3 linked regions of the Homo sapiens genome follow. The protein of the gene in region 1 purifies or fractionates together with the protein of each later gene. This does not show direct contact. Each region holds a gene or a part of one and is shown in the gene's direction. Other genes may lie near its edges.

Region 1 (3,652 bases):
TTTTGTATTATATATACCTTCAGTCAAATGTGCAGTTCTTGCTAACATATATCTTGTGTTTTGAGGTTAACAAAGTACTTTTTCACATATTCTGTGTCAGTTTTTTCCCAAAGTCCTGTGAGATAGGATTATTTTGTAGACAATGAAAGGGAGACTGAAAGATTGAAGAGAAATAGCCCAAACTCACACACAGCTACTACAGGGCAGATTGAGATTTGAAACTAATTTGGGTTTCTTTTGTACATGTTATTTTAAGACCACCACCAAACCGTGAACAATTGTTTATGTTGTATGTGTTCCTTAAAAAACAATTGTTCCAGGTGCAGTGGCTCACGCCTGTAATCCCAGCACTTTGGGAGGCTGAGGCAGGCAGATCAGAAGGTCAGGAGTTCAAGACCAGCCTAGCCAACATGGTGAAACCCTGTCTCTACGAAAAATACAAAAATTAGCCAGGTGTGGTGGTGCGTGCCTGTAATCCCAGCTACTTGGGAGGCTGAGGCAGGAGAATCGCTAGAACCCGGGAGGCAGAGGTTGCAGTGAACCGAGATCATGCATTGCACCCCAGCCTGGGCAATAGAGTGAGACTCTGTCTCGAAAAAATAAAAAATAAAAAATAAGCCGGGTGTGGTGGCTCATGCCTGTAATCCCAGCACTTTGGGAGGCTGAGGTGGGTGGATCACGAGGGCAAGAGATCGAGACCATCCTGGCAAATATGGTGAAACCCCGTCTCTACTAAAAATACAAAAATTAGCCAGGTGTGGTGACAGGCGCCTGTAATCCCAGCTCCTTAGGAGGCTGAGGCAGGAGAATTGCTTGAACCTGGGAGACGGAGGTTGTGGTGAGCCGAGATCGCGCCATTGCACTCCAGCCTGGGCAACAAGAGCGAAACTCCGTCTCAAAAAAATGAAAAACAGAAGATTGCTAATCAGAAACATGGGATTTGAGCCTCTAAATAGCTATTGACTGATTAAATACAATGTAAAATGTATCCTTTGGGACTTATCTTCCTCTGGGGCCTGTTCTGGAATTGCAGGATTGGGTTATGAGTATGAATAAACATGTTAGCAAGCATGTTGTGCTGAGAAGTATTGAAGCTGTGTAATATAGTGAGGAGTTATAGATTTCAGTGTCAGATACAACTTGGTTTAAATCCTGGCTTGGCTATATATTAGTTGTTTAAGAAGCCATTTCAGCTAGCTCACAAATTCGTTAAGTGTGGCCTGTGGACCCTTGGGTCTCTAAGGTGGTACAGAGGCAATGGAGGGTAAAACTGCTCGTGCCTTAGCATGAACCAAGGGAATGACACTAGAATATACTGATTATCATTGAGTTCTTCACCAACATGCCTGCACAGTAAAATAAAATGCCAGTTTCACTTAACTCTCAATCCTTTAGAATATCCATTATTTGAAAAGTCTGGCTGGGCATGATGGCTCATGCCTATAATCCCAGCACTTTGGGAGGCTGAGGTGGGAGGATCGCTTGAAGCCATGGGTTCAAGACCAGCCTGGGCAACCAAATGATACCCCCCCCCCCCCCCCCCATCTCAAACTCCTGACCTCAGGTGATCCACCTGCCTTGGCCTCCCAGAGTGCTGGGATTACAGGCGTGAGCCACTGCGTCCGGCCTGAGACTCCCCATCTCTAAAAAAAAAAAATTTTTTTTTTTTGAGACAGAGTTTCTCTCTTGTTATCCAGGCTGGAGTGCAATGGCACGATCCTGGCTCACTGCAACCTCTGCCTCCCAGGTTCAAGCGATTCTCCTGCCTCAGCCTCCTGAGTAGCTGAGATTACAGGCATGTGCCACCACGCCTGACTAACTTTTTGTATTTTTAGTTGAGATGGGGTTTTTCCATGTTGCTGAGGCTGGTCTTGAACCCCTGACCTCATGTGATCCTCCTGTCTCCTGTCTCGGCCTCCCAAAGTGCTGGGATTACAGGCGTGAGTCACCATGCCCGGCCTTTTTTTTATTTCTTTTTTTTTTTTTTTTTTTTGGACAGGGTCTCGCTCTGTCACCCAAGCTGGAGTGCAGTGGTGTGATCTCAGTTCATTGCAGCCTCTGCCTCCCGGGTTCAAGTGATTCTTGTGCCTCAGCATCCCGAGTAGCTGGGACTACAGGCACGCACCACCACGCCTGGCTGATTTTTGTATTTTTAGTAGGGATGGGATTTTGCCCTGTTGGCCAGGCTGGTCTCGAACTCCTGGCCTCTTGTGATCCACCTGCCTCAGCCTCCCAGAGTGCTGGGACTACAGGTGTGAGCCGCTGCACCTGGCCCCCATCTCTAAAAATATTAAAAAGAAAAAAATTAGCCAGGCTTGGTGGTGTGAGTCTGTAAGTCCTAGCTCCTCAAGAGGCTAAGGTGGAAGCATTGCTTGAGCCCAGGAGTTTGAGGCTATAGTCAGCTATTATTGTGCCACTGCACTCCAGCCTGGGCAGCAGAGTGAGACCCCATCTAAAAAGAAAAAGAAAAAAGTCTGTGTGATGAAATGGGAAGTATGCATAAAGCATATCTACTGCATGCTGAAGAAAGATAGTTTACTCAAGGAAAAGTAGTTGTGGGTTGGGCACGGTGGCTCACACCTGTAATCCCAGCACCAGATCACCTGAGGTCGGGAGTTCAAGATCAGCCTGGCCAACATGGCAAAACCCCATCTTTACTAAAAAATATAAAAAATTGCCAGGTGTGGTGGTGGGTGCCTGTAATCCCAGCTACTCAGGGACTAAGGCAGGGAAAATTACTTGAACCTGGGAGGCGGATGTTGCAGTAAGCTGAGATCTCACCATTGCACTCCAGCCTGGGTGACAGAGTGAGACTCTGCTAAAAAAAAAAAAAAAAAGAAAAAGAAAAATACTTGTGAAATTCTTTGAGTCATGAGTTAAAATAACTGCTTTTTTATGGAACACTATTTTTACTTGAGAATGACTGACAAACTGTGATTATTTAGACTTGGGTATTTGGCAACTATATTTGCAAAAGTGAAGGAAGTGGGCCAGTCACTTCAAGGAGAACAATTGACAGTATTTGTTGCCGATGACAAAATTTGAATTTACTAATGAAAAATTGGAATTTTGGAAAATCTGAGTCCACCACTATGGGGCTAACAGTTTCCGACACTTAAAAGACTTTCCTGAGATGAAATGAGCAGTGATATTAACAAATATGGTTTTTTGATGATATAAAATGCAATGTCATTTTCATTTTTCAAATTACTAGTTTACCATTTACTCAAAGTGTAAGATAACAAATGTAACAGGGTATGAAAGATGACTATTATAGGCCAGGCCTGGTGACTCACACCTGCAATCCCAGCACTTTGGGAGGCCGTGGCAAGCGGATCGCTTGAGCCCAGGAGTTTGAGACCAGCCTGAGCAACATGGTGAAACCCTGTCTCTACTAAAAATACAAAAATTAGCCAGGTGTGGAGGTACGTGCCTGTAATCTCGGCTACTTAGGTGGCTGAGGCATGAGAATTGCTTGAACCTGGGAGGTGGAGGTTGCACTGAGCTGAGAATGTGCCACTGTACTCCAGCCTGGACAACAGGGAGAGATCCTGTCTCCAAAAAAAAAAAAAAAAAAGCAAAAGATTACTGTTATGGTTTCAGATTTCATATTGCGATTAACTTTTAAGTGTCATAAACTGCCACTTGTCAA
Region 2 (3,227 bases), on another chromosome or scaffold:
CAAGGATCAGGTGCCTGGGGCAGGGAGGATGGGACCACCCAGAGCTTTGAGGATTTGGAAAGCTGGGGCTAGGACCTTTCTAGCTAACTTGGGCTCTTTCTTAGATGTCTCACCTGTTCAATGTGGCACACACACTGCGTATGATGGTGCAGAAGGAGCGGAGCCTCGACATCCTGAAGGTCAGGATCAGGGCCGGGGGTAGGGTCCAGGCCATCGCCTGCCCTTGGGCCGCATCAGCGCAGGGCCGCGCAGTGGTCAGAGTGGGTCTTCCTCCCCCTGCCATCCCGTCCCCTTATGCTAGTCCATCCCTCTGCTGCTGTAGATCTTCCCCCACGTTTTCCCTCCCCAAAGCAGGATTTAGCTGGCTGGGGAGGCCCTGAGCATGAGACCATCGCCCCACTAGTGGGGTCTTCTGGTCTGGGCTGCTGCAATCATGGGAGAGAGCTAGGGTGTGTCCTCCTTTCCCAGCTCGTTCAGACACTTAATGATGGGTGGTTTTCTGGAGGCAGAGCCTTTAGCTCAGAGTGACACCAGTGGTGGAAACGTCAAGGCTCTGACAGGTCACAGGGGAGGTTTGGGTGCAGAAGGGTCCTCACAGCACCCCTCAAGTGTCAGTTGGGGTGGTGGTGCCTAGCTGGGGTTTCCCCAGGGTGGACACGCATACGTACACCTTCCATCTTGCTCTTTCCCTAGGGGAAGGTCATGGCCTCCATGTTCTATGAAGTGAGCACACGGACCAGCAGCTCCTTTGCAGCAGCCATGGCCCGGCTGGGAGGTGCTGTGCTCAGCTTCTCGGAAGCCACATCGTCCGTCCAGAAGGGCGAATCCCTGGCTGACTCCGTGCAGACCATGAGCTGCTATGCCGACGTCGTCGTGCTCCGGCACCCCCAGCCTGGAGCAGTGGAGGTGAGGCCAGCCTGGGTACTGAGATGGGGTTAAGAAGGCTGGACCCAGGGGCATGAGAACCCTTCTGCCCACGTTTTCTGTGTTTTGGGCCAGATGAGTGAGGGGACCCCAGAAGAGGGGGACTGGCAGTTGGGGGGCCTCTGAGCTGCAAAAGACAGGATTTTCCCCTTTTTTCCAGCTGGCCGCCAAGCACTGCCGGAGGCCAGTGATCAATGCTGGGGATGGGGTCGGAGAGCACCCCACCCAGGCCCTGCTGGACATCTTCACCATCCGTGAGGAGCTGGGAACTGTCAATGGCATGACGGTGAGGGTGGTGGCAGGGTTTGGATCCCTGCCAGGGGACGATCTAGAGAGGGAGGCAGGAAGTGGTTACCCCGGTACAGGACAGCTGCATCAAGGAGGCCTTCATTCTGCTCCAGAGGCTTTTAAAAGCTTGGAAATGATGTCGGGGGGCACTCAGTCTGGGATCCCTGTGGTGACTGGATTCCTCTCCTAGATCACGATGGTGGGTGACCTGAAGCACGGACGCACAGTACATTCCCTGGCCTGCCTGCTCACCCAGTATCGTGTCAGCCTGCGCTACGTGGCACCTCCCAGCCTGCGCATGCCACCCACTGTGCGGGCCTTCGTGGCCTCCCGCGGCACCAAGCAGGTGAGACCCTCACAGCCCTGCCTGGAAGCCATGGAGATGTGGGTTGGGCAGTCAGAGCCCAGCGCTGCATCCACCATGGCTCTCCTCACCCTCCAGGAGGAATTCGAGAGCATTGAGGAGGCGCTGCCTGACACTGATGTGCTCTACATGACTCGAATCCAGAAGGAACGATTTGGCTCTACCCAGGAGTACGAAGCTGTGAGTGCTGGGCTTGAGGAAGAAGCCAGGGCTGCTGCCGTAGGGCATCAGATATGAGGACAGAAAGGCTGGGCTGAGGGCTGGGTCAGAGCTGTTAAACTTCACATCTGTCAATTGCCATAGCTGCATGTGGGTGTGGAGGGGACCCCAGTGGAGCCCAGACTTGTGTCCTCTGTAGCCACTCCTACCCCAAGGCACTAATGGGGACCCCATCTGCTTTGCAGTGCTTTGGTCAGTTCATCCTCACTCCCCACATCATGACCCGGGCCAAGAAGAAGATGGTGGTGATGCACCCGATGCCCCGTGTCAACGAGATAAGGTGGTGCAGCATCAGAGTCAGAGACTGCCTCGGGGCTGGTGGACGGGAGGAGACTTAGTCCTGGACAAGCCATCCATGGGCTGCACGATAACACTTCCTTTTTTTTTTTTTTTTTTTTTGCAGCGTGGAAGTGGACTCGGATCCCCGCGCAGCCTACTTCCGCCAGGCTGAGAACGGCATGTACATCCGCATGGCTCTGTTAGCCACCGTGCTGGGCCGTTTCTAGGGCCTGGCTTCCTCAGCCTCTTCTCTTTAGGCCCAGCTGCTGGGCAAGGAATTCCAGTGCCTCCTACGGGGGCAGCACACTTAGATATTCCTGGACATCCAGATAGCTCACATGTGCTGACCACACTTCAGGCTCTGGACTGGAGCTCTCTGGCATGGGGGTGGGGCCTCAGATGCTGGGGCCCAGTCTGCCCCATCTTCATTCCTGCACCTTAAACCTGTACAGTCATTTTTCTACTGACTTAATAAACAGCCGAGCTGTCCCTTGATGCTGAGTGTAGTAGAACAGAGCTTTCTTTTAGAAAATTGAGCAGATTCCCAAATTATAAGAGCAGCCTCACCAGGCAGGGCTCTGGCTAGGGCTGCGTGCCCACACTCGGCATTTTCACACTCGTGACTCTTTGGGACTCGGCAGGAGCGTGTTAACTCTGTGCTCTCTGAGTCCTGTGTCGTGCTGATGCCAGCGCTTACCTGGGGGCTCTGGCTGGTGTCCAGCCCTCCTTCCTCAATTCAGTTGACTCAAAGACCTGACAGAGAGTTCTGCCCTCTTCCTGACACTGGGAGAACACTCATCAGGGTAAAAGGAAGGCTGAGCACTGCGGCCTGTCTGAGGCCAGGCCTGGACTCTTCCTCACTCTTTCTGGTTAGTCCTCCTCCAGTGGCTAAGGCTGCCATTGCATTCTCAAAACCACCCTGGAGTTCTTCAGCCACTGTCACTATTAGGAGCCCCTCCTATTTCCCATCCCTGGGAGCCTCTGCCTGACATTGGACAGAGGGGCAGATGCCATGGAGGGCTGAGGAGCACTTTGGCTTGGAGACCCCAGGGCAGCAGCCTAAGGGCAGTAGCTTATGTGTCTGTGGGTGAGGGCTTCTGAGGAGCAGCTGTGCCCTCCAGTGAACTTGAGTAGCATTGGAGAAATCTCATTT
Region 3 (3,652 bases), on another chromosome or scaffold:
GGCATGAGCCCCCGTGCTCAGCCTATTGTTGTTTTTGAATACTTTTTAAAATTGTGGTGAAATACATACAACATGAAATTTTCATTTTAACTATTATTTTGGTGTATAGTTCAGTGGTGTTAAGTACATTCTACTGTTGTGCAACCGTCACCACCATCCATTTCCAGAACTTTTTCATCTTTCTGAACTCAAGCTTTGCATCCATTAAACAATGATTTCTGTCTCCCCCTTTCCCCATCTCCTGGCAACTGTCACCATTCTATTTTCTATGAATTTGACTGTTATAGGTACCTCATATAAGTGGAATCATATAGTATTTGTTCAATTTGTAAGTAATTTACTTCATTTAACATAAAGTTTTCAAGGTTCATCTACATTGTAGCATGTGTCAGAACTTGTTTATTTTTTGAGGCTGAATAATATTCCATTGTTTTTATATGCCATGTTCTGTTTATTCATTCACCCATTGTTGGATATGTGGGTTGTTTTCACCCTTTTACTATTGTGAATAATGTTGCTGTGAACACTGGTGTACAAATATCTGAGTCCCTGCTTTAAATTCTTCTGCGTGTATACCCATGAGTGGAATTGCTGGATCATATGATAATTCTGTGTGTAACCTTTTGAGGAATCACCAGACTTTTCCACAGTGATTGCACCATTTTACATTCCTACCAACAGTACACAAAGGTGTCGGTTTCTCCACATCCTCGCCAATATGTGTTTTCTGTTTTTTTAATAGTAGCCATACTAATGGGTATGTAGTGGTATCTCTCATTGTGGTTTTTGATTTGCATTTCCTAATCTTAGTGATATTGAGCATCTATTCATGTGCATATTGTTTGTTTGTATATCTTCTTTGAAGAAATGTCTATTCAAATCCTTTGCTTGCTTTTTTTTTTTTTTTTTTTTAAATTTTTTCCAGACAGGTTCTTGCTCTGTTCCCCAGGCTGGAGTACAGAGGCATGATGATCATGGCTCACTGCAGCCTCAACTTCCCAGGCTCAAGTGATTCTCCTACCACAGCCTCCTAAGTAGCTGGGACTACAGGCACACACCACCGTGCCTGGCTAATTTTTAAATTTTTTGTAGAGATGAGGTCTCACAGTGTTACTCAGGCTAGTCTCGAACTCCTGGGCTCAGGCAATTTTCCTGACAGCCTCCCAAAGTGCTGTCATTTTTTGTTGTTGTTAGGAGTTTTAGGTGTTTTTTATATATTCTAGGTATTATTCCCTTTCAAATACATGATTTACAAATATTTCCTCCTTTTTGTGGGTAGTCTTTTCATTCTCTTGATAGCGTCCTTTGTTGCACAGTAGTTTTTAACTTTGATGAAGTACAGTTTAACTACTTTTTCTTTTATTGCCTGTGCTTTTGGTATCATGTCAAAGAAACCATTGCCAAATCCAGTGTCCTGAAGCTTTTCCCTATGTTTTCTTCTAAGAGTTTTATAGTTTGAGGTCTTTGATCTAGTTCAAGTTAATTTTTTTATATGGTTTAAAATAAGGATCCAGCTTCATTGTTTTGCATGTGGATATCTGGTTTTCCTAGTGCTATTTATTGAAAAGACTGTCCTTTCCCTATTGACTGATTTTGGCATCCTTGTCGAGGGTCATTTGACTAAGTATGTGAGGATTTATTTCTGGGCTCTCTATTCCATTCCATTAGTCTGTGTATCTGTCTTTATGCCAGTTCCACACTTTTTGATTTGCAGTAAGTTCTGAAATTTGACTCCCCCAGCTAATATTATTTTGGCTGGGCTCAGTGGCTCATGCCTGTAATCCTAGCTCTTTGGGAGGCCGATGGGGGTGGATCACTTGAGGCCAGGAGTTCGCGATCAGCCTGGCCAACATGGCAAAACCCCCCATCTCTACCAGAAAACTACAAAAATTAGCTGGCATGGTAGTACACACACCTGTAGTCCCAGCTACTCACAGCTACTCAAGAGGCTAAGGCAGGAGAATCGCTTGAACTCGGGAGGCGAAAGTTGCAGGAAGCCCAGATCACACCACTGCACTCCAGCCTGGGCAACAGAGCAAGGCTCTGTCTCAAAAAGAGAGATTCTTTTGATGTTAGATTCCATATGAATTTTTGGATAGATCTTTCTATTTCTGCAAAAATTGTCATTGGGATCTTAAGGGGACAACCACTTGTTTTTAACTGATTTTTCTGCATGGACCTCCTTGTGCCATAGCAGCACAGCTATTTGAGAGTTTAAGGCTCTATAAAATGTTTAATTAAGGCTTCTATAGGGTAGTATGCATTATAAAATCTGAAATGATCCAGCCTGGATTTAGATTATGCAAGTTTCTTTGCTTGTATCTTCTCTTTTGGTAAGAAAGAACATACCTAGAAAGTAGACAGCCTCCTTTAGGGAGGAAATAGTATTTGACATGGATATGTCTTGGGAATTGCGTTTCTTTTGCTAGGTAATCTAAGAATTTGTGTAGGCTTTTAGTATGGAGTAGTTTTAGGGTGACTGCTTTAAAACTTCAAAGCTATAGAAATGACCCTCTAAATTGAGAGAATAAAGTCACTTTTAAAGACTGTTAAGCCGTAATTCATGGTAGTATGTAAAAGTAAAATTTTATTTCATTTTAGCATGCCAATGAAGATGTGGAAAGAATGTTACTAGGAAACAAGTGTGATATGGACGACAAAAGAGTTGTACCTAAAGGAAAAGGAGAACAGGTAAAAATCTGAATTAAACTGATACTCTGCTCTGTCTTTGTAAAGGTAATGCTACTTTTGATTATTTTTATAGTAATAGTGATCGAACACACTAAGCTAATTACATAGTTTTTAAAATGCTTGTTGGAAATAATATTTTATCATTTGAGTGAATTTTTTTTCAGTGCATATTTAACATGTATGGGAGAATCAAATGTGCCCATAGTATTTTTAGCCTTATTTAAACTACAAAGAGAGAAAAATATAAGTCATTAATCCTCGGTTTTTAAACTTAGGACTTTAAGGAAATGTATCAATTAGTATGGTTCTAAAATGTGACAATCAGGAGCCTATGGTGAGCAGAAATTAGACCCTGAGGAGTCAGGTTGAGCTTCTCATAAGTTTGCCCCCAGTGTGAAGTATCTGACTTAGAATATCTGAAATAAACTTTTGGGGTAAGGAGATTACTTTTCTTTTGTTTGTTTTATGAAAGAGCTTGACTTGCTGAAATATTCTGTGTTATATATTCTAGTTGGGACCACTGCCTTCAGAATAAGATTAATATTTAAGCTGTTAAAGTCAGCAGTTGGCAACCCATGCTTGATAATTTTATGATGATATTTTGTTTCTGTTTTAGATTGCAAGGGAGCATGGTATTAGGTTTTTTGAGACTAGTGCAAAAGCAAATATAAACATCGAAAAGGCGTTCCTCACGTTAGCTGAAGATATCCTTCGAAAGGTAAGTTCCTGTTTTTATATCCTGCCAGGTACCTGAGTATCTCTGTTGAATATTTTGTCTATTCTGAAGTACTGGATTTACATACAGAATTTGAGTTTGGGTGGTATTGTTTCTGTAGGGCAGCAGTCCCCAGCCTTTTTGGCACCAAGGACTGGTTTCATGGAAGATAATTTTTCCATGGACCGTACTGGGGGGTAGTTTCACCCAGAAACTACCCCACCTCAGATCATCAGGCGTTAGATC

The links.
Region 2: the proteins of PPP6C (region 1) and CAD purify together in Homo sapiens (affinity purification with mass spectrometry, with the first as the bait; one large-scale study listed by BioGRID). This does not show direct contact.
Region 3: the proteins of PPP6C (region 1) and RAB10 purify together in Homo sapiens (affinity purification with mass spectrometry, with the first as the bait; one large-scale study listed by BioGRID). This does not show direct contact.

What each region holds. Positions count from the first base shown.
Region 1 is NC_000009.12:125,165,721-125,169,372, reverse strand, and holds part of PPP6C (serine/threonine-protein phosphatase 6 catalytic subunit), read left to right. Parts: intron 1-3,652.
Region 2 is NC_000002.12:27,241,218-27,244,444, forward strand, and holds the end of CAD (multifunctional protein CAD), read left to right. Parts: coding exon 1-10; intron 11-104; coding exon 105-179; intron 180-693; coding exon 694-906; intron 907-1,084; coding exon 1,085-1,210; intron 1,211-1,402; coding exon 1,403-1,558; intron 1,559-1,654; coding exon 1,655-1,756; intron 1,757-1,980; coding exon 1,981-2,075; intron 2,076-2,198; coding exon 2,199-2,301; 3' UTR 2,302-2,726; downstream 2,727-3,227. UniProt on the Homo sapiens protein: Multifunctional protein that encodes the first 3 enzymatic activities of the de novo pyrimidine pathway: carbamoylphosphate synthetase (CPSase; EC 6.3.5.5), aspartate transcarbamylase (ATCase; EC 2.1.3.2) and dihydroorotase (DHOase; EC 3.5.2.3).
Region 3 is NC_000002.12:26,124,543-26,128,194, forward strand, and holds part of RAB10 (ras-related protein Rab-10), read left to right. Parts: intron 1-2,601; coding exon 2,602-2,691; intron 2,692-3,307; coding exon 3,308-3,409; intron 3,410-3,652. UniProt on the Homo sapiens protein: The small GTPases Rab are key regulators of intracellular membrane trafficking, from the formation of transport vesicles to their fusion with membranes.